4 linked regions of the Homo sapiens genome follow. The protein of the gene in region 2 interacts with the protein of the main gene of each other region in a pairwise test. Each region holds a gene or a part of one and is shown on either strand. Other genes may lie near its edges.

Region 1 (7,672 bases), on a different chromosome or scaffold from region 2:
GTTCTCCTGGGAAGAGAGTGAGGATTTCCGGTGGCAGGCTCAAGGCTGCGTACCCAAGGCTAGGGGCTAGGAGAAAGGGGTCAGAGGCTGGCGCTGGGTTGGGGGGCCAGACGCTGGGTTTAGAGGGCCGCAGCTGAGAGTGTGAGAGCTGAGAGGTTGGGGCTGCAGGGATGGAGTTGCTGGAGGTCTTCAGGGTGAGGTTGGGAGGTGAGGGGAGGAAGAGACTGGGCGATTGGGAAGGGACAGAAAAGTAGGGATGGGGGAGGAGGTACGTGCTGAGAGGTGACAGCCCGGCAGTACCGGGCAGACTGGGGGCCCTAGAGCTAAGGCTGGTAGCCAGCCTGAAAGAGAGGGGATGGATCGGGAACCAGGAAAAGTAAGGAAATGCTGCTCGAAAAGGCAGAGTGTAGGAGAGACCTGCCCGGTACACAGCGGCGTGGACTCCCAGGAAGACCAGGACCAGGACCGGATTGCGGCGTTCGCTCTCCGCGCGCCTCCAGCCTCCCCGTGCGTCGCATGCTGGCACCCCCGCCCACCGCGCCAGCTGCAGGTCAGGTACGTGGGCGCGGCCGGCCTCCGGAGCCGGAGTGTGCAGGGATGCGCACGGAGAGGGCGGGGCGGCCAGAAAGGAAAGGGGTGGGCCCGGGAGAAGGGGGCGGGAACACGGATTCAAACTCGCCTGCGTCCAGCCAGATACCGGAAATGGCCGGGGACTCACTGGGAATTGTAGTTCCCGCGGCTGCCCGGCAACCGAGGGTGGGGGGCGGGTCTTGTCCCGAGGATGCCAGTGCTGCCCCAGGTCCCAGTCTGGCGAGAGAGGAGGAACCGAGAACCCGACCTCCCTACCTGGCCGACTCCTTAGTTCTACTTCCCTCCGTGTGGAGATACGAACTAGGTCGAATGTGGGTGTGGCGGAAGACTGTGGGGTCACCACAGAGCCCCTCTTGTCCCCATTTTTGGCTTAGCCCCTCCCTTCTTCTACTAGACTCTTCATCCTCCGTCAGCTCCGCACTGGCCACCTTAGCTGCGGAGCCCAGGGACTCCCGAGCCGCAAACACATTGGGGAACTTGCTCCTCCAAGGGAAGGCTGGGCCGGAAATTGGACCCTGCGCGCAGCCCAGAGGAGCGAAAACTTGTGGAAATCGGACCTTGCCCTCGGAGTCCTGAGTCAAGGACACGAGTCCCCAAGCGGCACGGAAAACAGGTGGCATTCAGCAAATACGTCACGGCGACGACGGATGCGGCCCTCCTCTTGGGGCGGCCACAAGGTGGAGCTACAGTGCAACCCTGCACCGCGCGCCCGGCCTCCGGACGCCCCCGAGGTGGCTGCTCTCCTGCGGGCCTCCCGCGAGCCTCCCGCGAGTCCTTCATTGCCGCAGGTGATTCTCCTCCCACCTCCAACCCACCTCCTCCCATCTCCCCCTGATGGCCCCTCAAGGTCGTGTCCCATCCAACCGTAGATGGAAGGTGCCTCCTTTCCCCAGCCCCTGGGCCGAAAAGATTAGGCTGTGACCAAATGGAGATTACATTCGTTGAGTAACAGATTAAGACAAGATACAGGAACCAACCTGCCTTGAAGAAAAGGCTGCGCACAGCAAAAAGCCACCTGTAAGCACAGAATTACACGGCTAGACGGGCTCTTCAGCTCCTAGCCTCTAGGCAGGAAAACAGCTAAGCTGCAAGGGTCGAGGAAGACAGTACATCGTGGAGTGGCGATGGTGTCTCTATCATCTTACAGTTCTCCGGAAAAGACCATTTCGTTATCTCCTTCAGTCCCTCTTCCAAGCTATCCCACCCCGACACACCCTGTGCCTTCTATGCAAGAACACGTGCACACAAGTCTGAGACATTATCCGAGCAATCTCCCTTTTACTTCCTCTGTTCTAGTTTCATTTGAGGAGAAACTTCTCATTACTCACTCTCTTCCCAAACATCTCAGGTCAAAACCCCAAAGGGAGCAGATTCCATAGCAGCTTAGGGAATGCCCATCACCTGGGCAGAGGGCCCTCATGGTTCAAAACCTCCTGTTGGCAAAGCTCCCCCCACTTGCAACCCACCACCCCTGAAGCATTCCACTTAAGCCACTCTCCAACCCTTGCTGTTTGGGCAATGTAGACTGGCTTGGGTGGGGAAGCAGGGCAGGGCATTCACTCCATCATGAAATTGTTGATCCTTGTCAGCAGCACTGCTGTTTCTAAGCCTGGGGAGGAGGGGGAGGGTGGGTCATCTAGGGAGTTAAGCAAGGGGAAAGCTACAGGAGGAGAAACATGAGGTGAGGGGAGAAAGTTCTTACCAGTTTTCCCTCTCTTCTTAACAAATCTTCTGTGGGGAGAAAAGCTTCCCATTATGAGTTCAGCTAGCTTCAAGCAGGCCCTTCCAGCCCCCACACCTGCTCCCCCCAACTGCCTTTCCTACATTCAAGCCAATTTGATAGTATAAGGAAGGGCCTAAGAATCTCAAAGGAACTAAAGAGACCCCAAGCCTTGGGCAGCATATGTGAGTCTGAAGCAGCCTCATCACCAGGGCCCTGGAGAAAGTAAGGACCCAGAAAGCTGAGGCACAAAGCACTCACCTTTGGAGGAGGAAGGTCCACAAAAGCAGCATGGTGGAAACACAATTGGTAATGACCCATATGATTAGGTAGGTTTGAGGGGTCTGTGAAAATAGGAAAAGGCCCCAAGGGTAGAATGTCAGGGGAAATAAGTAAGGAAGAGAGGGACAGGGTTAAGGAAAACCAGGGATGGGAGAAGAGGAGAGGTGACAGTCCCAGAGCCCTTACAATAAGCCAGATAGGGTAACGCATCTGCTGCAGCAGCTGGCAGTCGTTGGTGGTGACCGAATCCACCCCTGCACACCAAAGCAGAGAGAAGAGCCAGGGCTTGTTCACTACAAATAGGTTCACCGAGACATTATCCTTATGCAATGCCCTGTGAAGGTGGGAAAGAAAATAGGGAATGTCCAGAATCATGGTGCACAGGACATGGGAGGCAGCCCCCTGCCTGTGCTTGAATCTACAGTGCCACTGCCAAGGAGGTATCAGCTCTGCCTTTCCATAGCAGCCCCTGACCAACAATGATTTTCCTTTCATAGCTGAACTCTGTCTTCTGGTGGATTCCACCCATGGGTCCTAGCTTTGCTATCTGGGGCCACACAATGTGTCTCTCCCCTGGGTCCTGAGCAGAGGCCCTGTCTCCCTGAGCCTTCTCTTCTCTAGGCCCCACAGCCCCAGCTCCTTCAGCCATTACTCTTATCATTTCCTTCCCTGTACAAGCCTCTCTAATATGATATATTCCAATTTATCAATGTTCCTTTGAAAATATGGGGCCCGTCTCTGAAAATAATATCCCAGATGGGCTTGGACCAGCCTTTTTTTTTTTGAGACAGGATCTTGCTCTGGAGTGCAGTGGCAGTCTTGGCTCACTGCAGCTTGACCTCCTAGGCTCAGCCTCCAGTGTAGCTGGGACTATAGGTGGGCACCACCATGTTCAGCTGGTTTTTATTTTATTTTATTTTATAGAGACGGGGTTTTGCTATGTTGCCCAGGCTAGTCTTGAACTCCTAGGCTCAAGTGAACCTCCTGCCTTGGCCTCCCAAAGTGCTGGGATTACAGGTGGGAGCCACCATGCCCAGCCAGCTTGGGTCACCTTTGAATAGAGCAAAACTATCTCCTCCTGTCCTCTGGGCACTATGCCTGTATTCAGGTAGTCCAGAGTCAGGTTAGCCTTCGGCAATGTTACATCCCACTGATGACTCACTAGGTATACTGTTCAATGAAAGCCCTGGTCTTTTTCACACATGTTCCTGTTGATGCCAGTGTCTCCTCTCTGGTCTTTGTGCAACTGAAATTCTTTTGGGCCCCAAATAGAGGTCTTTCCATCTATCCCTGGTGCATTTCATCTTGCTAGATTTGGCCTATCTTTTTACAGCACCTAGACCTTTCAGGGCCTCGATTCCATCATCAGTGTATTCAATACCAATTCACATCTTTTGGAAACATGATCAGCAGTTGATTAGCAGCTGATATTGACCAGGACAAGACTAAGGTGAGAACCAAACCCTATGTCATGTCTTCCTCTTTGGTGATAACTCGGGGAAATAAATACTTACATAGCTAGGTGAGATAGCTCATGCTTATAACCGGGAGGCTGAGGGGGGCAGTGGCTCAGGCCTGTAATCCCAGCACTTTGGGAGGCCGAGGCAGGAAGATTGCTTGAGGCCAGTAGTTTGAGACCAGCCTGGGCAGGTAGTAGGAACCTGTCTCTAAAAAAAAAAAAAAAAAAATAGCCTTGCATAGTGGTGTGTGCCTATAGTCCTAGCTACTCAGGATCACTTGAGCCCAGGAGTTCAAAGCTGCAGTGAGCTCTGATCAGGCCACTGCACTACAGGCTTGGTGACAGAGTGAGACTCTATCTCTAAAAAAAATTTTTTTAATTAAAATTCAAATTAAAAAAAGAAATATGTATGATAACTGGGCTATCATTCAGTTCACATTTTTCTATCTGAACACAAGGACCTTATAAGAGGCTTTAGCAACCAGATGCTTTGAAGTCTGTCATGGTTCAGCTGGGTCAGCTTCTGGGGCTCAGCTCACATCTGGGACTCTCCCTGATTCACGCTCTCTTACCCTGATGTCTGTTGTGGAATAAAATCCTTCCCGTGGCCTACAAGGTCCTACCCAATTTGGCCCCTGCCTGCTTCTCTAGCTTCCCCTTCCCCTTGCTCATTAGACTGCTGTTCCTGTTCTGCAGCTCATAGTTAGCTCCCTGTGACCATTCAGGTCTCAGCTTAGATATCACCTCTTTAACCAGCCTTCCTAATGTGGGTGCACCCACCTCCCTGCCCCAGCCCATCACTCCCAAACCTAACCACTCTTCTACATCTCTCTGTTTTGTCTTCATAACACTTTTTCACTTTTCAATATGCATGTATTTTGTTAAGTGGTTTATTCTGTTTTCTTCAGTAGTACATGTATTCCACAAAAGCAGGAACCTTGTCTGTCTTATCTGTGTTGTTTCCCCAAAGCCTGCAATACTACCTGATACATGGCAAGTGTTCTGTAAATACTTTTTGTGTGAGTGAATGAATCAAGAGGCTTTGCTCTCCCTGAACTGGTTCTTCCCTGCCATTAAGCCTCATGTGATCCCCTTGGTTCCTTTCCTCTAGCACTCACTTGATATCCAATAGTGGCAGATCTTGATAGGGGAGGTTAAGAAACTGGGGCCTCTCCGTTCTGTTGCCTCCCTGACGTCCATATATCTGGCGCATTCCAGGTGCCCGTCGTTGGACATTAGCCCGATCTTCATCTGGTAGCCAAAAGACCTGTGGTTCAGGAAGGATGGGTGTGAAGCTGGGGAAGACCTAGGGATTCCAAGGGCAGGGACAGGGGCAAACAGTTTTGACCACAGAATGGGGTATGTGAGCTGGGGCAGGGCCCTGGGGGTAGGGGCAGCCTCAAAATCATCCTCATCATCATGGCCTAGGGAAGGCAGGGTGGGGAGAGGGGGTCCTGGCAACATCACCATGGCTTGGGGCACCCTTGCATTCAGCACAGTCTCCAATGTCTGGATCACAAAAGTGTCATAGTATGTGTGGTTCTGTGGGGGTCGGCGCAAGTCGAACATGATGGAAAGGTTGAGGGCTGCAGCTTCCTCCAATAGCTCTTCTAATGCTGGTACCGTCTGACTCTCAGCCTCTTTCTGATCAGGGCCTGCCAGCGGTTTGGCCCCCCAGAAGGGTCGCCTCTATAAGAAAGAACAATTATTTCAAGACCAGAAGAGGCTTCCAGGCCTTGCCCCCATCCTCACTATCTTCACTCATATCTTCCACTTGGTGTCCAGCTTCTTTCCACCTCTGAGCCAGGGCCTTTTTCCAAACTGTGGCCTTCTTCCAGACCGTCTACCATCTTACTCTGTGACCTCAACCTCCTACCCTTCCAGTTTCCTAACTTTCTCTCTCCCACTACACCTTCTCTTTGGTCTCAAGGAGACCTCTGCAATCTTGACCCTTTGGTTTCTTCCCAGTTCATCAGCCCCTTTCTAGCTGCACCTACATCCCTTACCCATGGTCCATCCACAGCTTGAACTACTTTTCCATAGCACTCTCAGCTCCCTTTCTGTCCCACTTGCCCTACAACTCCCAGACTCTGATTCAATTCTACAATTGTCTGCCTCCTCCACCCCTAGAACTGGGGGCTGAGCGCTGCCATGGGCAGAGTACACAATGTGGGCTGTTGGCACTGCAGTCCTTATTTTTCGCTCTCAGCGCTGCTTAACAATCCTTTTACTTGCTCTTGATTTGCTCCCTCTCCCATTCCCCCTAGTGTTATTCCAAGCCTCTGCTACTCTCCTCTCCTTATTCTCAATGAATGACCTCACTTCCTAATTGCTGACATGGATAAAGCTAGCTATCTAACACTTATTAAGTACTTACTATGTGCCAGGCAGTGTTCTAAGTACTTTATGTGCATTGACTGATTTAATCCTCCCAATAACCCTACAAGGTAGGTACTGTTATTATTCCCATTGTACAAATGAGAAAATTGAGGCACAGAGAGACTAAGAAATCCTGCCTCGGGTCACACAGCCAGTAAGTGGTATAGCCAGGGTTTAAACCCAGACATCCTTTGCTGTTAATCACTCTGATCTGATATGATGTAAAGAGTTAAATGGAAAAGAAGCAAATTGCAAAAGAGTCTGTGTAATGATTCTGTCTGTGCAAAATAGAGAGAGAGAGAGAGAGTTTGTGTATGCAGATGCACCTTGACTTATGATGGAGTTGTGTCTTGATAAACCCATTTTAAATTGAAAAGATTGAAAATCAAAAATGCATTTAATATACCTAACCTACTGAATATCCTAGCTTAACCTAGCCTGCCTTAAGTGTGCTCAGAACTTACATTAGCCTACAGTTAGGCAAAAATCATCTAACACAAAGCCTATTTTATAATGAAGTATTGAATATCTCATGTGATGTATTGAATATTGTACTGAAAATGAAAAACAATTGTTGTATGGGTACTCTTAAGTATAGTTTCTACTGAATGTATATCAATCTCAAATCATCATAAAGTAAAAAAATCATTAAGTGGAACCTCATAAGTCGGGGACTGTGTGAGTGTGTGTGTGTGTGTGTGTGTGTGTGTATCCAACTGTTAACAGTGAATATTTCAGAGGGACTGGATTATGGGAGACTTTGATTTCTATGTTATTTCTTATTTCTCTGATGTTTTACTTTTTACAATGAACATGTATTACTTTTACAATCAGGGGAAGAGGAACTGAAAAAATTCAATATCCTTTTAAATATTTTGTACCACTTACAGGATTGAAGTTGACACTTCTGGGCCAGGCATTCGGAGCTCTTCAAGGCCAAGCCTCTGCTCCCTACCACTCCCATGAATTGTCTCTCTCAGTTACATTCAGCCACATTTTATTCCTGGAAACACCCTTTTTCAGACTTCTGGGCTTTACGTGTCCTCTTCCCTCTGAAGGAGTTCCTGTTCCCTGCTTTGTGCATCTTAGAAGAAGACTTTCATCCTCTCCTGTATGAATCCACTCCTGATTCTCTCCCAGGCAGGAAAATGTTTTTATTGCTCTGGGTTTCCTGAATCGTCTGCTGCCTAGGCTCTCTACTAGGTGGAAGTGACTTGAGAGCACAGACTATGTTCTTATTG
Region 2 (7,672 bases):
CATGGGTCAGGGCGTGGCGGGTGGTGGTGCTGACTGTGGCTGGTCTGCTTCTGGTTTGCACACCAGAGGCTGGAGGAGGGCCCTCAATGGAAGCGACCAGCAGGCAGCTGGGGATGAGGGTCTGTAACCCAGGAGGTCTGGAGTTGCTGAGGTGCAGACAGAAGAGGAAGAGGAAGACGAAGAGGAGGACAAAGAGAAAGCAGGAGCAGAAATGGCACCATCTAGAGAGAGAGTGGGAGGTGGGGACAGGGACCGAGAGGAGCCCTGGGGACCGCCAGCTACAGAGAGACAAATGCAAATGGATATCGAGGAGGTGCAGTCAGAGGCAGAGGGAAGCCAGAAAGTGTGGGGCTCAGGAGAGCGGCTGGGGATGCCAGAAGCTACCGAGGGGCCCAGCAGGAAAGGACTAAAACCGTCCCTGGACTTAGTGACCTGGAGGACCCTGGCGGCCTTGGCAGAGACATTCTGTGGATACGTGGCAGGAGGCTAAGAGCGCAGGCCGGGTCCCAGAGCAGAGTACGATGGAGAGAATCAACTAGAAAGGCTGGAGGACCGAGCTGTGGGAAGGAACTCCGGTGGCACGCCCAGAACACCGACATGTGTAAGTGAAAACAACCTTCTTACCCGCGGTGTGTGGAAATAGAAGCCAGAATGGTGTATCTGTTAGAGAAATAAATGGAACCTAAGAGCCATTAAATCGGTGTGGTGGTTAATGCCGCATCACTTCCTGTTTGATGCAGACAGGAAAAAGAATATGTGTATATATATATTTTTTGAGACGGAGTCTTGCTCTGTCACCCAGGCTGGAGTGCAGTGGTGCGATCTTGGCTCATGGCAACCTCTGCCTCCTGCGTTCAAGTGATTCTCCTGCCCCAGCCTCCCGAGCAGCTGGGACTACAGGTGCCCGCCACCATGCCTGGCTAATTTTTGTATTTTTAGTAGAGACGGGGTTTCGCCATGTTGGTCAGGCTGGTCTCGAACTCCTGACCTCAGGTGATCCACCAGCCTCGGCCTCCCAAAGTGCTGGGATTACTACTGGTGTGAGCCACCGCACCTGGCCTGAAAAGCACCTTTTCTTTCCCTAATACTGTGTTTTACCTCACATAATAATATTCTGATGAATACAAGTGAAAAAGGAAACTGCCTCCAGGACCCCTTTTCTGGCTCTTTCCTTCCATTCCTCAGGCAGACAGGCAGCCCCAACCTGCAGCTCTGGCCGAGTCAGGCAGGGACTTCCTAGACCAAAGGCCTTTCCATGTTGTGCTGAGCTGCGCTGCCTGCACCCCAACCATGGGCCCGCTGCACCCACCCCTGGGCACAAGCCTGGCCCAGCCTGCAGCCCCTGGACCCCACACCTGGCACCAGGTAACTTCCATTTCTGCCACTCACCTCCATGTGTCCAAATGTCTGCACCAAGGGAATCACCTCCAGCTCATTGAGTCCAGCCAGATGCAAGATCTCTTTGATTTCAGAGGGGCTGGAGAGACAAAATTCATAGAGAGAGGGTCATGTGAGCAGCACGTGACTTCCACACCCACCCCCCCAGCCCTTCCTCATCAGGCCCTGGGGGGCTCTCCGGGAAACAGTAAGGCCCTAAACTCCACAAAGCTTGACAGGTATCCTGATTTCTGGAAAGGTACCTGCTCCAAAATTTGGGAAGATGATGTTCTAGCACGTCCTCAAGTAATGGTTCGCTTTTCAACCCACGACAAGAGAATGAAGTCATCACATTTTACAAGAAACTACTCAAGGCCAGGCACAGTGGCTCACGCCTGTAATCTCAGCACTTTGGGAGTCCAAGGCCAGCAGACCACTTGAGGTCAGGAGTTCGAGACCAGCCTGGCCAACATGATGAAACCCCGTATCTACTAAAAATACAAAAATTAGCCAGGCCTGGTGGTATGTACCTGTAATCCCAGCTACTCGGGAGGCTGAGGCAGGAGAATCACTTGAACCCGGGAGGCAGAGTTCGCGGTGAGCCAAGATCGCACCACTGCACTCCAGCCTGGGAGACAGAACAAGACTCTGTCTCAAAAAAAAATAAAAATGCTACAGAAGGTGCCACACTCCATCCAGAGCCGGGTCAGCAGCTGCCCGAGGGCAGGTCCACCACAGGGTCCTCAACCTGAAACAATCCTGGGGCGCCCGTCCTCTGCAGAAGGGCCACATCCTGGGAAGGGCTGACTGCCCCGGGTCGACCTCTTCGTTTTTCACAAGCTTTACATGAGCTGTCATTTATGAATTTATCTAAAAAAAAGCTATTTCTAGTTTTTGTATGTGTTTGAACCATCTTAGGCTAATCCGTTCTATAGATTTATGAGTTACATAAAGTCTTTAAACATTCCTGTTTCAAGCTTCGAAGGAACCCTGGTACTTTACTTTTTCACATCAAAAGACAAAATGTCTTCACTGTAGGAAGAAAACTAGAAGAGTATGAAGAAAATGCAAACCCCTGATCATGTCATCGCACTTGATCATCTCATCGCACCTGATCATCTCATCGCACCTGATTATCTCATTGCAGGCCAACACCCTGGCTCACCGTTCATCACTTCTGGTCTAACCACATGTGGGCTGCATGGGGTGCAGGCATTTTGGAGTTTTGACACATGGAACCGAAGTCCTTCCAGAACAGATGTCATATTATGTTCATCAGCAGGTAGTTTTCCTCTTTCTCATTCTCATCAACACAGTCTTTACAATTTTTCATTTATTTTATTTATTATTATTTTGAGACAGAGTCTTGCTCTGTCACCCAGGCTGGAGTGCAGTGGCGCGATCTCGGCTCACTGCAACTTCTGCCTCCTGAGTTCATGCAATTCTCCTTCCTCAGCCTCCTGAGTAGCTGGGATTACAGGTGCGCACCACCACACCCAGCTAATTTTTTTTTTTTTTTTTTGAGACGGAGTCTAGCTCTGTCGCCCAGGCTGGAGCGCAGTGGCGCAATCTCAGCTCACTGCAAGCTCTGCCTCCTGGGTTCCCGCCATTCTCCTGCCTCAGCCTCCCGAGTAGCTGGGACTACAGGCGCCCACCACTATGCCTGGCTAATTTTTTATATTTTTAGTAGAGACGGGGTTTCACCTGTGTTAGCCAGGATGGTCTCGATCTCCTGATCTTGTGATCCGCCTGCCTCGGCCTCCCAAAGTGCTGGGATTACAGGCGTTAAGCCACCGCGCCTGGCCACGCCCAGCTAATTTTTGTATTTTTTTTGGTAGAGACAGGATTTTGCCATGTTGGTCAGGCTGGTCTCAAACTCCTGACTTCATGATCCGCCTGCCTCAGCCTCCCAAAGTGCTGGGATTACAGGCGTGAGCCACAGCGCCCAGCCCAAGTCTTATAATTTTTAAAAAAGGCTTACCAGTTTGGTAGCCAGGATGGTGTTGCATTATTGATTTAGTTTCTTTGATTTGAGTACTATGAGGGTTTAACATTTTCTTTCTTTCTTTCCTTTTCTTTTGAGACAGGCTCTGGCTCTGTTGCCCAGGTTGGAGTGCAGTGGCGCCATCTCAGCTCACTGCAGCCTCTGGGTCCTGGGTGTTAATCCAAACTGCACCATTTTGTAAGCCCCCTGCTGTTTTCCAGACCCAGGTTGAAGTGAAACATTCCACGGGGTTTGGGCTGTGAGGAACATCCTGCCCAACATCCTGACCACACGGCCCAGGAACATCCCGACCACCCGACCACACGGCCCAGGAACATCCCGAACATACCTTGCTGGGCAAAGGCCCAGCTGAAGGAACATCCTGATCATATTCTGCTGGGAACAAGGACCCAACTGCCTCATCATGGGAACATCTCTCAACATCTTCCCAGGCAGAAGCCCTACTGCCCAAACCCCTCCCGTCCAGGCCTGTAAGTACCCCAGCCTGTAAGCGGCGGTGGGCTCTGGCATTAAGCTGGTCCCCCCTCTGTAGGTTTCTGCACTATACCTCTGTTGCTGTAGAGACGCCCTCTCTCTCTCTGTCTTTCTTTAACCCTCGCCTTCCCTTTAAAAAAACCTAACACCAGGCTCAAGCCATCCTCCTATCTCAGCCTCCTGAGTAGCTTGGACTACAGCCCCATGCCACTATCCATGGCTATTTTTTGCATTTTATGTAGAGATGGGGTTTCACCATGTTGCCCAGGCTGGTCTCGAACTCCTGAGCTCAAGTGATCCACCCACCTCGGCCTCCCAAAGTGCTGGGATTATAGGCGTGAGCCACTGCACCCGGCCTAATTTTTGTATTTCACATAGAGATGGGGTTTTACCATGTTACCCAGGCTGGTCTCAAACTCCTGAGCTCCAGTGATCTGCCCACCTTGGCCTCCCAAATTGCTGGGATTACAGGCGTGAGCCACTGCTCCTGGCCTTCACATTTTCTTATATGCTTATTGGCCTTTTTTGTTTCTTCCTTTGGGATTGGCCAGTTAATGTCCATTGTGCATTTATCTTTGGGGCCGTTATTGATTTTCACAGAGACCTGTGATTTTAGCATTAAGCAGGGGCCTCCCATCTCCACCACACCTGATTTTATTGATTTTGATTCTCTCCCCTTTAATTCTTCTCTTCTCTAACTCAAGGCTCAACTGTGGCCTGAAGAGCAGCCCCTCCCTGCGCGGAGGCCTCCTCCAGCATCCTCCAGCCTTCTCTAGCTCAGCCTTCTACAGCCTCCTCCAGCCTTCTCCAGCCTCCTCTGACCTTCCCTGGCCTCCTCCAGCCTTCTCTAGCCCAGCCTTCTCTGGCCTTCTCTAACCTTATCTAGCCTTCTCTAACCTCTAGCCCAGCCTTCTCCAGCCTTCTCCAGCCTTCTCTAGCCTCCTCCGGCCTTCTCTAGCCCAGCCTCCTCCAGCCTCCTCCAGCCTTCTCCGGCCTCCTCCAGCCTCCTCCAGCCTTCTCTAGCCTCCTCCAGCCTTCTCCAGCCTTCTCTGGCCTCCTCCAGCCTCCTCCGGCCTTCTCTAGCCCAGCCTCCTCCAGCCTTCTCCAGCCTTCTCCAGCCTTCTCTGGCCTCCTCCAGCCTCCTCCAGCCTTCTCTAGCCTCCTCCAGCCTTCTCCGGCCTTCTCTAGCCCAGCCTTCTCTGGCCTTCTCTAACCTTCTGTAGTCCAGCCTTCTCCAGCCTTCTCCAGCCTTCTCTAGCCTTCTCCAGCTTTCTCTAGCCTTCTCTAGCCCAGCCTTCTCTGGCCTTCCTTCTCTGGCCTTCTCTAACCTTCTCTAACCTTCTCTAACCTTCTGTAGTCCAGCCTTCTCCCATCAACAGAAGAAACGCCTGCAGGACAGAGACAGGAACTGCAGCTCTTCCCTGTAGGGGGCGCTGCTGATGCTTACTTTCCCTTTAAATGTTTCAAAATTCTCTCCAGTGAATGTTTGAAATGAAACTTTGTTTTCATACAATTAAAGAGATGAATTTAAAAAGACAAAAAAGGAATGTACCCACCACTGTTCAGTTCCTGACTGTGCCACCCGCACCTCCAGGTTGCTGCTCCTCCTGCCCTGCGGAACCCCCCCTTCCCCGCTTTCACGCCGCGCCCCTGTACCTGCCACGGGCAGTGTTACCTGTAGGCGTACTTGGCCCTCAGCAGCCTCAGAGGGCCCTCGTAGGGAAACATGTCTTCATACTCAATGAGGAGGCCGTTTGCACCTAGCGCACGGAACAGAGGAAAAATCTGGGGGGTAAACAGGGAGGGGTTAGGAAGAAGTGGCTGCTGGAGCACGATGTGGCAAGTCCACAGCAGGGAGACGCCTTCCCTTTCAGCCTGTGGAGACTGTGGGAGTTGCTACTTCTATTTCTCCTGGGAACCTTAAATCCGGAATGTGTACTTTACGTTATGCCAAATGAAACTCCCCGTTCCAGTGACTATTTTGCACAGAAGGGGAGATATGCTATGAAACAGGGCTGCTACTCAACGCGCTGGTGGCTCAGCTTGGGAGGGACGGGTCCGGCCAGCAGGGAGCCACCAAGAAGCAGCTCTTCATGCACGGCGGCCCAGCAAGGCAGCCAGGCTGAGGGGCACCAGCAAGGCATGGGGGACAGGGCAGCCAGGCTGAAGGAGAATGGCAAGGCATGGGGGACGGGGCAGGAGGAGCCGGGGCAGGGGGAGCAGGGCTCTGAAGGGTTGGGGTCAGCACCTGGGGGAGGTGAGAGAGGGGTGCAGAACTCATTCGTTCCTGGTCTGTACTCATGGGGTCCCTTCCCCCTTATTCTCCTCCCCACTTCCTTGTCTTTCTCTCTTTTTTTTTTTTTTTTGAGATGGAGTCTCGCTCTCTCGCCCAGGCTGGAGTGGAGTGGCGTGATCTTGGCTCGTTGCAACCTCTGCCTCCCGGGTTCAAGCGATTCTCCTGCCCCAGCCTCCCGAGTAGCTGGGATTACAGGCGCCCGCCCCGATGCCCAGCTAATTTTTGTATTTTTAGTAGAGACGGGGTTTCACCATGTTGGCCAGGCTGGTCTCGAACTCCTGACCTCAGGTAATCTGCCCCTCGGCCTTCCAAAATGCTGGGATTACAGGTGTGAGCCACTGTGCCCGGCCTCTCTCTTTTTTTTAACAGATGGGGTCTCACTCTGTTGCCCAGGCTGGAGCGTGCTGGCATGATCATGGCTCGCTGCAGCACCCAACTCCTGGGCTCAAGTGATCCTCCAGCCTCAGCCTTCCAAGGAGCTGGGACTACAGGCACATGCTAGGCCTCCTGGATGACACACATGCAGGAGAACTAAGGAGCCCCAGCTGACAGTTGGGATGAACTGCCGGACATGGAAGGCCACGCGGACCATCAGAGGTTTCTAGATGTTACGGGGCTGTGACCACCTGAGGGCACCTCGGTCAGAAAAGCAGAATCACGCAGCCAACCCACAGAAACACAAGGGGTGATGAATGGGGACCTCAAGTTTGGGGAGATCTGTCACGCAGCAACAGATGATGGAAACAGGGACTCCAGCTGTGTGTAAGTTGGATCTTCTTTGCCTATATTCAATTGTCAGAACGCCTTTCCTTTCTTTTTTTTTTTGAGATGGAGTTTTGCTCTTGTCCCCCAGGATGGAGTGCAGTGGCACGATCTCAGCTCACCACAACCTCCGCCTCCCGGGTTCAAGCAATTCTCCTGCCTCAGTCTCCCGAGTAGCTGAGATTACAGGCACCTGACACCACGCCTGGCTAATTTTTGTATTTTTAATAGAGACAGGGTTTCACCATGTTGGTCAGGCTGGTCTCGAACTCCTGACCTCAGGTGATCCACCCTCCTCAGCCTCCCAAAGTGCTGGGATTATAGGCATGAGCCACCGCGCCTGGCCCAAGTCAAAATGCCTCTTCATCAGCTGTATGTAAGTTCAGTCTTCTTTGCCATATTCAATTTGTCAGAACGCCTTTTCATCTCTGTTTGCTTTTTTCTTTTCTGTCATCTGTTTCCAAATACTGCACTTTCCATGGTGTCTACTCACTTGTACACTTCTTATAGTTTAGTCTTCATTAAAAACATTGTTTTTTCCTTATAATTCATTTCTGAGCTCCACAGGCAATTTTTTACAACCTCCTTTTGTCTGATTACCACATTTCTGGGCTTTTTTTTTTTTAGACTGAGTCTTGCTCTATCGCCCAGGCTGGAGTGCAGTGGCACGATCTTGGCTCACTGCAACCTCCACCACCCAGGTTCAGGTGATTCTCATGCCTCAGCCTCCCAAGTAGGTGGGATTACAGTTGTGAGCC
Region 3 (7,672 bases), on a different chromosome or scaffold from region 2:
TGTCACTCCCTTGCTCAAGAACCTGTGGTAGTTCCCTGTTACTTCCCATATGGAGCCTACACTGCATCTCCCCCAACAGTGTTTTTCTCCGTCCCAGCTAGGCCTGCCTCCCTTGGTCCCCCACCCCATACTCATTTCAGCCACCACACCTTTGCCTCCCAAATTCCAGCTTCCCCTTTCCTCTTCCCAAATGTTGCCCCAACTTCATGGCCCCAGTCTCAACCCTCCAAAAGCCTTCCCTGATCTCCCCCTGCACCCTAATCCTGAGCTGCACCTCCCCTGAGATCTCCAATGACTGGGAACTCCCAGCTAACTGGACAGTGAGGGAGTCTCAGTGGATAACGGCAAATTTGAATGATCTATGAACTGTGAAGATAAGGCCTCTACCCTCAGACTGGGGACCCCAAGGCCCAAACTGGATTTCTTCCCTCAGACTAGAAGACTAGACTCTTCCAAGACTTACTTATGAGTCTCTGTGTTTCTTTTTTCTTTTTTTTTTTTTTTTTGAGACGGAGTCTCTCTCTGTCACCCAGGCTGGAGTGCAGTGGCGGGATCTCGGCTCACTGCAAGCTCCACCTCTCGGGTTCACAGCATTCTCCTGCCTCAGCCTCCTGAGTAGCTGAGACTACAGGTGCGTGCCACCACGCCCGGCTAATTTTTTGTGTTTTTAGTGGAGACGGTTTCACCGTTTTAGCCAGGATGGTCTTGATCTCCTGACCTCGTGATCTGCCCGCCTTGGCCTCCCAAAGTGCTGGGATTACAGGCGTGAGCCACCTCGCCTGGCCGAGTATCTATGTTTCTATTGGAGCCTTCCAAGAACAGACAGCATGGTTACTTGTTTTGTTCTGTGACATCTGGGCTCCCTAGGACCTGTGAGGGCCTCTTGTGCTGCTGGTCAAGGCCCTGCTTCCAGAGGCTTCTGCTTTCCCACTCAGGTTGCCAGGGGACCTCCCTTTGATGTTTCAGCACCTCTCCTCCCACCCCAACCCACTTGTCATAACAACCCAGCTAGAGACAAGATACAGAACCCCAAATCCAGGCAGACATCTCCAAAGAAGGAAGTGAGGCAGCCTCACTGCCTCTCATGGCCTCTCACTCCCCTCCCCTACCCCCACCCAGGGCCTACCCCAGCTCTCTCAGCCTCCCCAGGCAGCCCCTTCCCCATGCCCCATCCTAGCCCCACCACGCAGCCCCGGGACTCACATGGCCCACTGCAGCTTCTCATTCTTGATGGAGCTGTACAAGGCCTGGGGGGTGGGGGGAACAAATTAGGGGGTTGTGGGTCAGTACCGCAGTGTCAGAGCTTAGAGCCTTCCCCTCTAACTTGAGAGATGAGCCAGAACTAAGGGGAAAGGGCAGCAAGATATAATGACCAAAAATACAGGCTCCAGAATGGAGACCCAGACCCGGCTCCACCACCTGAGCTGCATGACTTCGGGCAAGTATCCATGGAGAGGAACAAACGTAGTAACATGTGGGCACAGGCAGTTAGCACAGGGCATCCCAGCACAAGGCTGACGCACAGTAAATGGTTGTTGCTATTATTATCTTTATTGTTGTTAAGGGGCTGTCCTGCTCAGATCCTGGGCTGGAGAAGCACAGCCCTGGAGGGAACGGGAAAAGCAGCCCAAGAAATTCCCCTTCCCCCAACCACGCGCTCTGGCCTGTTTCCACAGGATGAGCCCACACATAGCATATGGGGAAACTGCGACCCCAGGATAGGGGACTCGCCCTCTCAGCACTTTCCTTCCCTAATAGAGAATACACTATCATGGCTCCCAACACCAAGACAAGCTGAGGCCTCCCCCTAACCCTGACAGCCCCACCAAGCCAAATGCCAGGGTGGTCCAACGCCCTGCCCACGTGCACACTTTGTCACTGGAGAGTGAACACTCCTCTAAAAAGCAGTGGTTTTAGCTTCCAATCCCTGCATAGCCCAAACTCTGTGCGATGTGAACCAGCCACTTCCCCTCTGTGCAGTTGGCCTGGGGACATTTGGGGGTCCTGGGGTGGTCAGAAGAGAGAATAGGCTCCAGGAGTGGCATGGGGTCCCCTCTTCTCCAGAGTGGTCTGGAATATGGGTCCACGCCAGCACCTCCAACTGTGGGGTACTTCCGTCAGCCTGTCCGTGAGTGGGTGTGTCCCCAGCATGTGCATGTTGGGCTAAGTGTGTGGCGTGTGATGCTGCCTGCATGTGAGCTGGGTGCAGTGGTGACGTAGGCACCTTCCCTGTGATGGGACACAGCCTCCCCTTCACTCCTCCCAACAAACCACAGTCTCTGACTCTCTCACTGCCCACAGCCATGCCCAGCCACAAGGCAAACCAGGCATCCCAACTGGGCACACACTGTTCACACCCTATCTGGGGATGGGTGTACCCCACAGCCTCCAACCCCCACTCCACCGCCCCCAGCACAACCAAGGCAAATCAACACATAGACCTTCCAGCACACACCCAGACGAAACCCAGCATGGCTCAGACCCTTAACCCTCACTCCGCAACTCTCTGGCCAGAAAGCGGAAGTGGCCACCAAGATCCAACCTGCAATCCTTGCCTCCCGCCTTCTAGTTCATCCCCTGCCCTGTCTCAGGACCCCCTTCGGCCCACCATCACACCTCATTCGAGGGCCCTGAACCCCATCGGTGGGCCGCAAGTCATATTCAATCTAGAAAAGCCTCTTCGGTTTTTGAGGCCCACCTTGGCCCCAGGGTCTGTGCCCTCCCTGCCCCCCCAGCCCGTGCCCGCCTCTGGCTGCCCATGACCTCTGTCCCTACCAGGCTCCGCCCTCGGTTGGCACCGCCCTCGGTGCCTCCCACAAGCCGCCCCCTCGGTCGCCCCGCAACCTGGCGTGGGCCGCGGCCCCAACGCCCTCACCGCCTTTTTCTTCTTGCGGCTCTGCAGGCGGCTGACCACCAGGTCGGTGTAGAGCACGGGCTTGAGGCTGCGCGAGCGCTGCGGCCAGCCGTAGCACAGGGTCTCCGCGCCGCGGTGGGTGCGCCCGTAGCGCACGGAGCACAGCGAGCGCGAGCGCAGCCGCCCGGCGCTGCTGTGGATGCTGTTGACGCCGATCATGCTGGCCCGGCCGGCGCGCCGCGGCCCCCGGCCATGCCCCCGTCCGCCCTCGGCCCCCGGGCCGCCCGGACGGCCCGCGGACCGCTCCCCCGACAGCCAGCGCGAGCGGCGCGGCCCGGCCCGAGCCGGCCCGGCTCTCACGGACGCACGGAGTGCGCGGCGGCGGCGGCGGCGCTGTCTGCTCTGCGGCTTGGCTAGAGCGGGAGGGGGGCGCCGACGGGAAAGGGAGGGCGAGGGCTGGGGGCGGGGACCGCATGAAATGGAGGCGCCCGATCGCGAAGGGGGCCCTCCCCGCGCGGCCACGGGGAGGAGCCTGGGGAGGCCAGCGTGGGTGGCAGCTCCAGGGAGGCTGAGAGCACCGCTAGGCCTGGGGCTGTGACGCTGGGCGGACCCGGCAGGGTCTGGAACTCCCTTCTGGCTGGTCTGGGTTGGGGTGGTGGGAGGGGAGAGGTCGGACCGCTTCCCTGCAGCCCTTTTCCACTGAGCCAAGAGGGGCCTCGAGGGAGGACGGAGGCAGGGAAGGAACAGCCCTGGCCTCATCCAGCTCACCCGCAGATACCCCACCCATATATAGATCTGAAGTCACGTAACACACCTCGATTCTGACATACACCCCAACAAACCAGACGCACCAGTTCACGGTCACCCCAACTCGCAGACACTACCCATTCAGATGGACACTTCAAAACTTAGAATCTTTAGCTCACAAAGATACACCCCCTACTCAGAGGCATATGGCATACCTCAGACACGGCCAATTCGAAGATGTAAACCCCACCACACATAAACATCCAGCCTACACCCCAACTCAAACACACACTCTGAATCGTAAGCCCTAAAGCACAAACACACCAAGCCATACAAACCCTTGATTCACGACGCCCGGGCACACAGATGCAACTCAACTCAAGCAACACCCCAGCTCACCATGGACGTTCCCTCTCAGATATACCCCAAACTCAGAAGCCCAGCACCCCAAGCTCACAGAAACGCCCTAGGACAATCCTGTGCTGTTACATGTATGTAGTGGAGCAGAGACACCTTTGTCCTAGCCTGGGGGTTTCTTCAAGTGAGTCCAGGCCTCTCTAGATAAACTACCACCAGATCAGGGAGAGGAGTGAACCCACTGGATGAGCCACTCCCTTCTCCTACCGGCACCAGCCCCTACGTATCTGAGCCCTCGGTTGCGGGCCATGGAGCTGGCGCCTGGGAACGGGACCTGCTCACAGGGAGCCAGAAAGCAGTTTCTAGCTCCAGCTTTGCGCTAACTCGCTGCCAGACCTTGGAAAAGCTTAGTCCCTCTCAGGCCCCTCTCCCTCCGGGTTCCTGCAGCGCAGCAGCACCGGGAAGGTCTTTTTGGCTGTCCACGCGGCGGGGGAGCAGTGTGGAGTGTACCCCCATCCAATCCCTGTCCCGTGCAGGGACCCCCGCAACTCCCGCCTTCCACCCCAGCGCACACTGGAGGAGGGGAACTGAAGGCAAACGCAGGGGCCGGGGCCGCCTGCTCGCGTTTTCCAGAGCCGGGTCCCCTCCCCCGCCGTGCGCAGTCGCGACCGCACGCATGTGCGCATGTTCCGGGAGAGCCTGCGCGTGGGGCCTGGGGAGGGGGCGGTCCCCAGGCTGAGTCACGAGAGCCCGGGCTTCCGTGGCAGGAGCCGGGGGTCGGCAAGCCCCAGCCCTGCCCTCCCTCCGACTCTGGACTCCGTCGCCGACTGGGTCCTCCATCCTTCCCCTCCAGCGACTTCTACCCTGCCCCGCCCCCCACCTTGAGCAGCTCCCTAGGGAAGTCGCCGCCATCATTGAGGCCCTCCAGGTTCCCGATGAAGTCCCCGCAGGTCATGCGCTTCCCGATGTTCTAAGGAAGGGAACGGAGGCCTGTGAGTTTGGAGGGCCCTTGGCCTCCCAGGTCCTGCATGTCTGGCCAGGGGTTTGTTTTCCGGCTCCTGCCCGCCCGCCTCCACTCACATGGCCGTGGAGATCCGTGTTGAGCAGCATGAGCGCACAGGTCAGCGTGTGGGCGCCGTCTAGGGGAGAGCTGACTTTCAGCCTTGGCTGCCTCCCAGGGACCCTTCCCACAGCCATCTTCCCCAACCTCCCATTTCATCCCCACCCCCTTTGGCCGGCAACTTCCTACCTCCTGAACCCCGCTAGTAAACCCTCCCCACAAAGAGCTCCTCTTCCAGCAGATCCGTCAGCAAGGACCCGTCCCTGGCTCCCTCAAGTACTGAGGGCTAGTTGCCCCAACGTACTAGTTGCCCCAACGTTCCCTTGCCTCTAAGCCTGGACCACGAGAAAGTGAACCGCAGCACAGTCCTGTAGACCAGTGCAGCCAAACAGAATCCCCTCTCCAGCCAAGCACTGGCCTGCACAGGCATGCAAACTCCTGCCTCTTCACAACACACTCAACCCTAGCAATATGCCTGCCCACATGTATAGTTCCACATACATGCAGCCATGACAGCGCTGTCTGCACACATGCAAGTTCACATGCCTACACGCATGTACATCCATTCCCTGCTGTACACACACTCATGCTCCTGTACACACACACAGGGCCCAGCCCATTTTGCCACTGTGGCCAGCTAAGGACACCCCTGCTCTCGGAACTCCTCACCCTCTGAGGACAGGGCTTCAGGATTGCACTGGAAGTATCGCTGGGAGAAGTGGGCCAGCACGCGCTCTCGTTCCTGGGTCTCACCCATTAAGGCCAGCTCCTTCAGAAACACCCTGGAGAAGGGGCAAGAGAGGGTTGCCTAGCAACCAGGAGTTTCCAGCCTCTGTCTCTGGGGTGACAGGAGGCTTTGAGAGTACAGCAGCTGGGGTGGGAAGGGGAGGAGAGAAAGGGGATGAGGGTATGCACCCTGACCCTCCACCCATCACCCCTACCCAAGGTCCCTTTACCAGGCAGCTCTGGCCCTTGGCCATGCCCAGCCATCTTGGGAAGGGTGATGTCAGGACGGCTTGTGGGGGACAGAGGGGCTCAAAGGAGGCATCCTGGGGCCCTAACACGAACCCCGGAGAGTGGGGGCTGTCCTCCAAGGGGTCAACACCCACCTGAGAGCTTGGTCCAGAGTCATGCCCGTGAAGACAAAGAACTTGAGGTACTCCCCAGCCACCAGTTTGCTGAAGTCATTGCTGTGGGCAGGGCAGAGAGACAGGTAGGGTCTCAAGGGGAAGTGCAGGGGGTCAGGTGGGGATTACCCAATGACCAGGGGACATTAGATGGAGAGCTGCCTTCAGGATGCATTCCCTCTGCCCCCATCCTCAGTCCCAGCCTAGTGGCTTTACTTCTTGCCCAGGTGCCGGGCCACATCGGCCTTCCTGAAGCCATCTAGTCGGTACAGCCTCTTGGCCAGGCGCTGCGCAGCCTCCAGGTCCGCTTTCTGCCCATTGGACAAGGTGTCTGTGCTTCCCAGGGCCAGCCGCTCTGTGCTGTCCAGCTCTGAGTCTGAGTCGGACACCAGCTGGCTCAGGGGTGGTTCGCTGCCGGGGTAGAACACCAGCTCAGGCTGGGGCAGGGTCCTTAGGAGCCATCCAGACCCTCCTTCTGCCTCCAGGCCCAGAAGATGGAGAAGGGGAGGGAGTGGAGGGACATGGGGAAAGCATTCTTCTTTTTTCCAGGGAAGGAGATTAGATTCTCTCCATCAGCCTACTCCATCATTACCACCTCTCTGTGGAAGTCCTGCCTCAAATCTAACCCACATCCGTCTTGCTGCTGTGGGAGTTCTGGCTGCTTCCTCAAGCTCCCAGGGGCCTACATTTGCTATTAGACATAGATTATCTGTTCCCACCCTGGCCCTACACAGAACATAGTCCTTTGTCTCTTAGACTATGGACAAAGCTGGAATAGATGGGCTACCACGGAGGAACTGTGGAGGGCCAGGGAAAGATTTGAGGGCAGCAGGGATACTGGTCCGAAGGCTTTCCCCCTCCTGCTTTTTAGGGAGAGGAACCTCTCCTTGGTGCTCCCCCTCTGCCCACACAGAAGCAGGCTCTGGAGTTAGGGGGTTAAGGGTCGGGGTGCATACCCTCATTCCCTTTCTTTCCTCCCCTTCCCACCCCAGCTGCTCTACTCGCAAAGCCACCTGTCAGCCCAGAGACAGAGGCCGGAAACTCCTGGTTGCTAGGCAACCCGGTCTCCCTGGCCACCCCCTCCTGTTGCCATGGCTTCCATGACTGAGAGGGTAGCTGGCAGAGGGGAGAGCAGAAAGGTTAGACTGTGAAAGGACTTCCTGGAGCTGGACGAGAGATGCCTGATTAGGCAGGGGTGACATGGGAGGGAGGCAGTGGGAGAGGCTGGTGGCTGCATCTTTGGTGAAGCCTTCAGGCTGGGTGAGGGTAAGGTCACAAGAATTCTGAGCAGGCTAAAGACTCTGCCAAGGGAAGAAAGGGCCCTCCAGGAGAGCAAGAAGGGTATTCTCCTGGGATCCTTCAATGCTGAATCATGCTTTCTCAAGCCACTGGACTTGAGACCAAGAGGGGTGCTGTGAGGGACTCTCCCTCACAGCTAATGGCAGTAGTCCTCCAAATAGGAAAACAGGATCTGCATCCCTTAACCACCCCTACTCAGGGGTCAGGAATATAAACCAATCCTCACAC
Region 4 (6,745 bases), on a different chromosome or scaffold from region 2:
CTGTCCCACGTGGGACCATTCCTCTTGAATGAGCCGTGTCCCAGCATTGGAACATGCTATGCACTTTCCTCTGAATACTTCCCTCATGTCTGTGCACCAGGGTTGATCCCATAGTTCTTCGGATGCTGCCTCTTATACTAAGAGTGAGGTGCTTGTGTAAAATTCAGATTCTCAGAAATCAAGTCAGTAGGCCGGGCGCAGTAGCTCACACCTGTAATCCCAGCACTTTGGGAGGCCGAGGCGGGCAGATCACAAGGTCAGGATATGGAGACCATCCTGGCTGACCATCCTGGCTAACATGGTGAAACCCCATCTCCACTAAAAATACAAAAAATTAGCCGGGCATGGTAGTGGGCGCCTGTATTCCCAGCTACTCGGGAGGCTGAGGCAGGAGAATGGCGTGAACCCAGCAGGCAGAGCTTGCAGTGAGCCGAGATCGTGCCACTGCACTCCAGCCTGAGTGACAGAGCGAGACTCCGTCTCAAAAAAAAAAAAAGCCGGGCGCAGTGGGTCACACCTATAATCTCAGCACTTTTGGAGGCTGAGGCGGGCAGATCACAAGGTCAGAAGATTGAGACCATCCTGGCCAACATGGTGAAACCCCAAGCCTGTAGTCCCAGCTACTCAAGAGGCTGAGGCAAGAGAATTGCTTGAACCCGGGAGGCAGAGGTTGTAGTGAGCTGAGATTGCGCCACTGCACTCCAGCCTAGCAACAGAGCAAGACTCTGTCTCAAAAAAAAAAAAAAAAAAAAAAAGAAAGAAAAAGAAAAAGAAATCAAGTCAGTGGTTCTTGGATGAAGCTCAGAAATCTGGATTTTTTTCAAAAGTTCCTTGGACCACACTGATATGTGCCCTCTTAGTTGCCAGGTGTCAGGACAGTAGGCTGCAGCTTTCCTGTACTCCATTCATTCAACAAATATTTACTGAGGGTCTGCCATGTGCCAGGCACTGTTGTAGGTGCTGAAGATACAGCAGTGAACAGAACCTAAAGTCTCTGGCTCGTGGACCTTACATTCTAGTAGAGGGAGTCAGAGAGTGAACAGGTAAAGAAATATATTAACAGGACAATTTCAGATAGCTATATGTGCTATGATCACAAATAAGGGGACAGAACGGGAGAGAGAGGACTACTTTAGATTTGGGTTATCTTTTATCACAGCAGTGGGAAAAAAAACACAAGAAAATCGAGTTGGGAAGTCCTGGAAGGCTTCTGTGAGGAGGTGACATTCAAACTGATCACTGAAGTACATTAAAGACCGGAAGGAAGAGCATTCCAGGACAGGAGCAGTGGCTCATGCCTGTAATCCCAGCACTTTGGGAGGCCAAGGCCAGAGGATCGCTTGAGCCCAAGAGTTTGAGACTAGCCTGGGCAACATAGAGAGCTTTTTTGTAGAGACCTCATCTCTACAAAAAAGAATAAAATTAGCCGGGTATGTGCCTGTAGTTCCAGCTACTTGGGAGGATCTCTTGAGCACAAGAGGTCCAGGCTACAGTAGGCCATGGTCACACCACTACACTCCAGCCTGGATGACAGAGCAAGATCCCGTCTCCCACCAAAACAAAAGAGCATTCCTGGTAGACGGGACAGTAAGTGTAAGAGCTTCAGGCTACAGAAATTCCCAGAACAGGCCAGGCACAGTGGCTCACGCCTGTAATCCCAGCACTTTGGGAGGCCAAGGCGGGCAGATCACCTGAGGCCCAGAGTTCGAGACGAACCTGGCCAACATGGAGAAACCCCATCTCTACTAAAAATACAAAATTAGCTGGGCGTGGTGGCGCATGCCTGTAATCCCAGCTACTCAGGAGGCTGAGGCAGGAGAATTGCTTGAACTCTGGTAGGCGGAGGTTGCCGTGAGCCGAGATCGTGCCATTGCACTTGAGCCTGGGCAACCACAGTGAAACTCTGTCTCAAAAAAAAAAAGAAATTTTCAGAACAGAAGACCATGGTGACTGGAACAGGGAAGAGAATGGAGGTGGGATTGGAGAGGTGGGAGGGGCTGGGTCACCCAGGGCCACGTGGATTCTTTCTGGTGCTGACTGTGGGTTTTATTCTAGGTACGTTGGGAAGAGACATTGGATGGTTTTAAGCTGGAGAGTAACATGACCGTATTTATGTACAAAAAGCTCACTCTGGTTGCCTTGTGGAGAAGGGTTGGGAGACAGGGTCAAAGTAAGGCCAATGGGGGTGTTTCTTTTTTCCTTTTTTTTTTTTTGAGATGGGGTCTCACTCTGTCACCCAGGCTGGTGTGCGGTAGCTTGATCTCAGCTCACTGCAACCTCCGCCTCCCAGTTTCAAGCGATCCTCCCACCTCAGCCTCCCGAGTAGCTGGGACCACAGGTGTTCACCATCATGCCCAGCTAATTTTTGTATTTTTGGTAAAGATGGGGTTTCTCCACGTTTCTCAGGCTGGTCTGGAACTCCTGAGCTCAAGCAATCCGCCCGCCTCAGCCTCCCAATGTGCTAGGATTACGGGTGTAAGCCACTGCACCCAGCCTAATGGAAGTGTTTCTTCCACAAGGAAGGGTCTTCTGAGGTAAGATAATGAAAGAGCACCTCCACCCAGGTGTCCGAAGTGAAGGTGTTCATTTAGGACTTTCATTGGCTGTCTTGTTGCAAATCAGGCTTCCAGAAGGCATAAACTACTGGTTTCTTTCAGCGTCCTTCTACGGGAGCTTAGGACACCTAATTGGAGTTTGAGCCTAATAGAGCAAAAGTGAAATGTGTGTTCTGTGCATGAGCTAGCCTGAGGACATGTGGCTAGTGGCTAATGAGCGTGAGGCCACCCTTTCAGGGTCAGATAAACTTAATGAGCTACTAGAATCAATGAGTGAATGAATGAACGAATGAATGTGTTTTTTTGTTTTTGTTTTTGAGACGGAGTCTCAATCTGTCACCCAGGCTGGAGTGCAGTGGCACCATCTTGGCTCACTGCAAGCTCCGCCTCCCGGGTTTATGCCATTCTCCTGCCTCAGCCTCCCGAGGCAGCTGGGACTACAGGCGCCCGCCACCACACCCGGCTAATTTTTTGTATTTTTAGTAGAGACGGGGTTTCACCGTGTGAGCCAGGATGGTCTCGATCTCCTGACCTCATGATCTGCCTGCCTCCGTCTCCCAAAGTGCTGGGATTACAGGCATGAGCCACCGCACCCGGGTTTTTTGGGGTTTTTTTGCTTTTTCTTTTTCTTTTGAGATAGTGTCTTGCTCTGTCGCCCAGGCTGGAGTGCAGTGGCGCAATCTCGGCTCACTGCAACCTCTGCGTCCCGGGTTCAAGCGATTCTCCTGCCTCAGCTTCCTGAGTAGCTGGGATTACAGGTGTATGCCACCACGCCTGGTTAATTTTTTTTTTTTTTTAGAGATGGGGTCTCACTATGCTGCCCAGGCATGTCTGAGACTCCTGGGATCAAGTGATCCTCATCCTCTTGCCTCAGCTTCCCAAAATCATAGGATTACAGGCGTGAGCCACAATGCCTGGCCTGGACATATTTTTGAGTCAACAGCTGCAAGAGCTACTTAGAAATTTTACGGGGGTTGCTGTGCCCCTTGCTTTGTTCCTTCTGCTTACCCTGAACCCTCTCTCTCTCCACACCAGGTTCTTTTTTCGATCGGGGAAACAGACCTAGATCCAAGGCCACAAGTAAGGCTATGGCTCTGATTCTAGAAGACAACCTTCCAAGATGCCTGGCAAAACCACCTCCCTGTGCCACACAGACACACTAGGCCTGTGTATTTATTTCCCCTTCAAAGCAGACTGAGGAGGGAGGAGACGAGGTTCTCTTGGCATCACTTTCTCCCTGGCTGCAGAACTAGACACCCTTGAAGATTTGGCCTGGGCCAGTGAGACTGAAATCAAGAAAAACAGAAGGGATGTGCAGGGTGGGGGGGTCCACTTCCTGCTCCCATGTCAACCCCCAGGGCCTCCAGCGTGCAGACGCGTGTCCTACTCATCTGCTCCCACGGATGACCCTGGTCTTCAATGGTTAGCAGAAGGGAGAAAAGAAAGCAGGAAAATGTGCTATTGAGATTCCAGTGGTGACTTCACTGATATTTAGTGAATATTTGATTTAGCCAACATGCCTTTCTTTATGTGATTTTGTATTAAAGTAAAATGATTTTTATACTTTCTATAGCTTATCTAGAGTGGTCTCTTAGTTACGATGGTACACATGGTATATGTGTGTATATGTCATATATCTACATTTCATTGTATAATGAATCAATTGCATTCATTCAGTCTAAGCGATGCACGATTATCTGGTGTCACTATGAAGGGAAAGATTGCTGCAAACTAAAATGTTAAGAAGCTATCGATTTTAGGACTCATCCTGATTTCAGAGGTGTTAAGATGTGAACAAAATGCATTTAGGAATCAATGAAACAGAGAGCGGGTGTCTGCACTTCGCAAAGGAACTAATGAGGCTGCCGCAACCATTCCGTGAGCCTGTCTTCTTAGTAAATAACAGTGGCTTACTCAATGTGTTTCGCCTGCTCTGTGGATTATCTCATTTGTTCCTCATAACCTGGGGAGATGGGGACCGGTACCGGTGCACCAGTTTATAGATTTTTTTTTTTTTTTTTTTTGAGACGGAGTCTCTCGCTCTGTCGCACAGTCTGGAGTGCAGTGGCACGATCTCGGCTCACTACAAGCTCTGCTGCCTACGTTCACGCCATTCTCTTGCCTCAGCCTCCTGAGTAGCTGGGACTACAGGCACTTGCCACCACACTCGTCTAATTTTTTTGTATTTTTAGTAGAGACAGGGTTTCGCCGTGTTAGCCAGGATGGTCTCGATCTCCTGACCTCGTGATCCACCCGCCTCAGCCTCCCAAAGTGCTGGTGAGAGGTGACAGCGTGCTGGCAGTCCTCACAGCCCTCGCTCGCTCTCGGCGCCTCCTCTGCCTGGGCTCCCACTTTGGCGGCACTTGAGGAGCCCTTCAGCCCACCGCTGCACTGTGGGAGCCCCTTTCTGGGCTGGCCAAGGCCGGAGCCCGCTCCCTCAGCTTGCAGGGAGGTGTGGAGGGAGAGGCGCGAGCGGGAACCGGGGCTGCGCGGGGCGCTTGCGGGCCAGCTGGAGTTCCGGGTGGGCGTGGGCTTGGTGGGCCCCGCACTCGGAGCAGCTGGCGGGCCCTGCCGGCTCCGGGCAATGAGGGGCTTAGCACCCGGGCCAGCGGCTGCTGAGGGTGTGCTGGGTCCCCCAGCAGTGCCAGCCCACCGGCGCTGCGCTCGATTTCTCGCCGGGCCTTAGCTGCCTTCCCGTGGGGCAGGGCTCGGGACCTGCAGCCCGCCATGCCTGAGCCTCCCACCCCCTCCGTGGGCTCCTGTGCGGCCCAAGCCTCCTCCACGAGCCCCACCCCCTGCTCCATGGTGTCCAGTCCCATCAACGACCCAAGGGTTGAGGAGTGCAGGCACAGGGCACGGGACTGGCAGGCAGCTCCATCTGCAGCCCCGGTGCGGGATCCACTGGGTGAAGCCAGCTGGGCTCCTGAGTCTGCTGGGGACGTGGAGAACCTTTGTGTCTAGCTCAGGGATTGTAAATACACCAATCGGCACTCTGTATCTAGCTCAAGGTTTGTGAACACACCAATCAGCACCCTGTGTCTAGCTCAGGGTTTGTGAATGCACCAATCGACATTCTGTATCTAGCTACTCTGGTGGGGCCTTGGAGAACCTTTGTGTCCACACTCTGTATCTAGCTAATCTGGTGGGGACGTGGAGAACCTTTGTGTCTAGATCAGGGATTGTAAACGCACCAATCAGCGCCCTGTCAAAACAGACCACTTGGCTCTACCAATCAGCAGGATGTGGGTGGGGCCAGATAAGAGAATAAAAGCAGGCTGCCCCAGGCAGCAGTGGCAACCCGCTCGGGTTCCTTTCCGCATTGTGGAAGCTTTGTTCTTTTGTTCTTTGCAATAAATCTTACTACTGCTTACTCTTTGGGTCCACACTGCTTTTATGAGCTGTAATACTCACCCCGAAGGTCTGCAGCTTCACTCCTGAAGCTAGGGAGACCAGGAGCCCACCAGGAGGAACGAGCAACTCCAGACGCGCCGCCTTAAGAGCTGTAACACTCACCACGAAGGTCTGCAGCTTCACTCCTGAGCCAGCGAGATCACGAACCCACCAGAAGGAAGAAACTCCGAACACATCTGAACATCAGAAGGAACAAACTCTGGACACGCCACCTTTAAGAACTGTAACACTCACCGCGAGGGTCCGCGGCTTCATTCTTGAAGTCAGTGAGACCAAGAACCCACCAATTCCGGACACACTGGGATTACAGGCGTGAGCCACCGCACCCGGCTTTTTTTTGGGGGGTGGTGGGGACGGAGTCTTGCTCTATCGCCCAGGCTGGAGTGCAGTGGCACCATCTGGGTTCACTGCAATCTCTGCCTCCCAGATTCAAGCGATGCTCCTGCCTCAGCCTCCCGACTAGCTGGGACTATAGGTATATGCCACCACACTGGGTTAATTTTTGTATTTTTGTAGAGACGGGGTTTCACCATATTGGCCAGGCTGGTCTCGAACTCCTGACCTCATGATCCGCCCTCCTCGGCCTCCCAAAGTGCTGGGATTACAGGCGTGAGTCACCGTGCCCGGCCAGTTTATAGGTTTAGAAACTGAAACTCTGGCTGTGGAGCTAGGAAGCAGCTTGCCCAGGAGGCAAATGCAGGCCTGATTCCAAGGCCCGGGCGCGGAGCTGCCAAGCTTTATGGGTCCAGAGTCACTGGCAAGTCCTAATAATAGTAATA

Evidence for each region.
Region 1: the proteins of HEXD (region 2) and GDPD2 interact in a two-hybrid assay, tested with the Homo sapiens proteins (one large-scale study listed by BioGRID and IntAct).
Region 3: the proteins of HEXD (region 2) and PSD interact in a two-hybrid assay, tested with the Homo sapiens proteins (one large-scale study listed by BioGRID and IntAct).
Region 4: the proteins of HEXD (region 2) and RILPL2 interact in a two-hybrid assay, tested with the Homo sapiens proteins (one large-scale study listed by BioGRID and IntAct).

Annotation. Positions count from the first base shown.
Region 1 is NC_000023.11:70,427,562-70,435,233, reverse strand, and holds the end of GDPD2 (glycerophosphoinositol inositolphosphodiesterase GDPD2), read right to left. Parts: exon of another isoform or gene 7,322-7,672; intron 5,742-7,321; coding exon 5,520-5,741; intron 5,320-5,519; coding exon 5,171-5,319; intron 4,261-5,170; coding exon of another isoform or gene 4,108-4,260; intron 2,928-4,107; coding exon 2,780-2,927; intron 2,656-2,779; coding exon 2,573-2,655; intron 2,323-2,572; coding exon 2,294-2,322; intron 2,201-2,293; coding exon 2,148-2,200; 3' UTR 1,853-2,147; downstream 1-1,852. UniProt on the Homo sapiens protein: Has glycerophosphoinositol inositolphosphodiesterase activity and specifically hydrolyzes glycerophosphoinositol, with no activity for other substrates such as glycerophosphoinositol 4-phosphate, glycerophosphocholine, glycerophosphoethanolamine, and glycerophosphoserine.
Region 2 is NC_000017.11:82,422,363-82,430,034, reverse strand, and holds part of HEXD (hexosaminidase D), read right to left. Parts: intron 5,642-7,672; coding exon 5,532-5,641; intron 4,711-5,531; exon of another isoform or gene 3,431-4,710; intron 2,660-3,430; exon of another isoform or gene 2,525-2,659; intron 2,006-2,524; exon of another isoform or gene 1,908-2,005; intron 1,783-1,907; exon of another isoform or gene 1,727-1,782; coding exon of another isoform or gene 1,641-1,726; intron 1,478-1,640; coding exon 1,390-1,477; intron 602-1,389; exon of another isoform or gene 1-601. UniProt on the Homo sapiens protein: Has hexosaminidase activity. Responsible for the cleavage of the monosaccharides N-acetylglucosamine (GlcNAc) and N-acetylgalactosamine (GalNAc) from cellular substrates. Has a preference for galactosaminide over glucosaminide substrates.
Region 3 is NC_000010.11:102,406,020-102,413,691, forward strand, and holds part of PSD (PH and SEC7 domain-containing protein 1), read right to left. Parts: intron 6,557-7,672; coding exon 6,362-6,556; intron 6,209-6,361; coding exon 6,128-6,208; intron 5,801-6,127; coding exon 5,688-5,800; intron 5,098-5,687; coding exon 5,039-5,097; intron 4,929-5,038; coding exon 4,839-4,928; intron 3,259-4,838; exon of another isoform or gene 2,876-3,258; intron 1,248-2,875; coding exon 1,204-1,247; intron 1-1,203. UniProt on the Homo sapiens protein: Guanine nucleotide exchange factor for ARF6. Induces cytoskeletal remodeling.
Region 4 is NC_000012.12:123,412,767-123,419,511, reverse strand, and holds the end of RILPL2 (RILP-like protein 2), read left to right. Parts: intron 1-3,590; coding exon 3,591-3,621; 3' UTR 3,622-4,473; downstream 4,474-6,745. UniProt on the Homo sapiens protein: Involved in cell shape and neuronal morphogenesis, positively regulating the establishment and maintenance of dendritic spines. Plays a role in cellular protein transport, including protein transport away from primary cilia.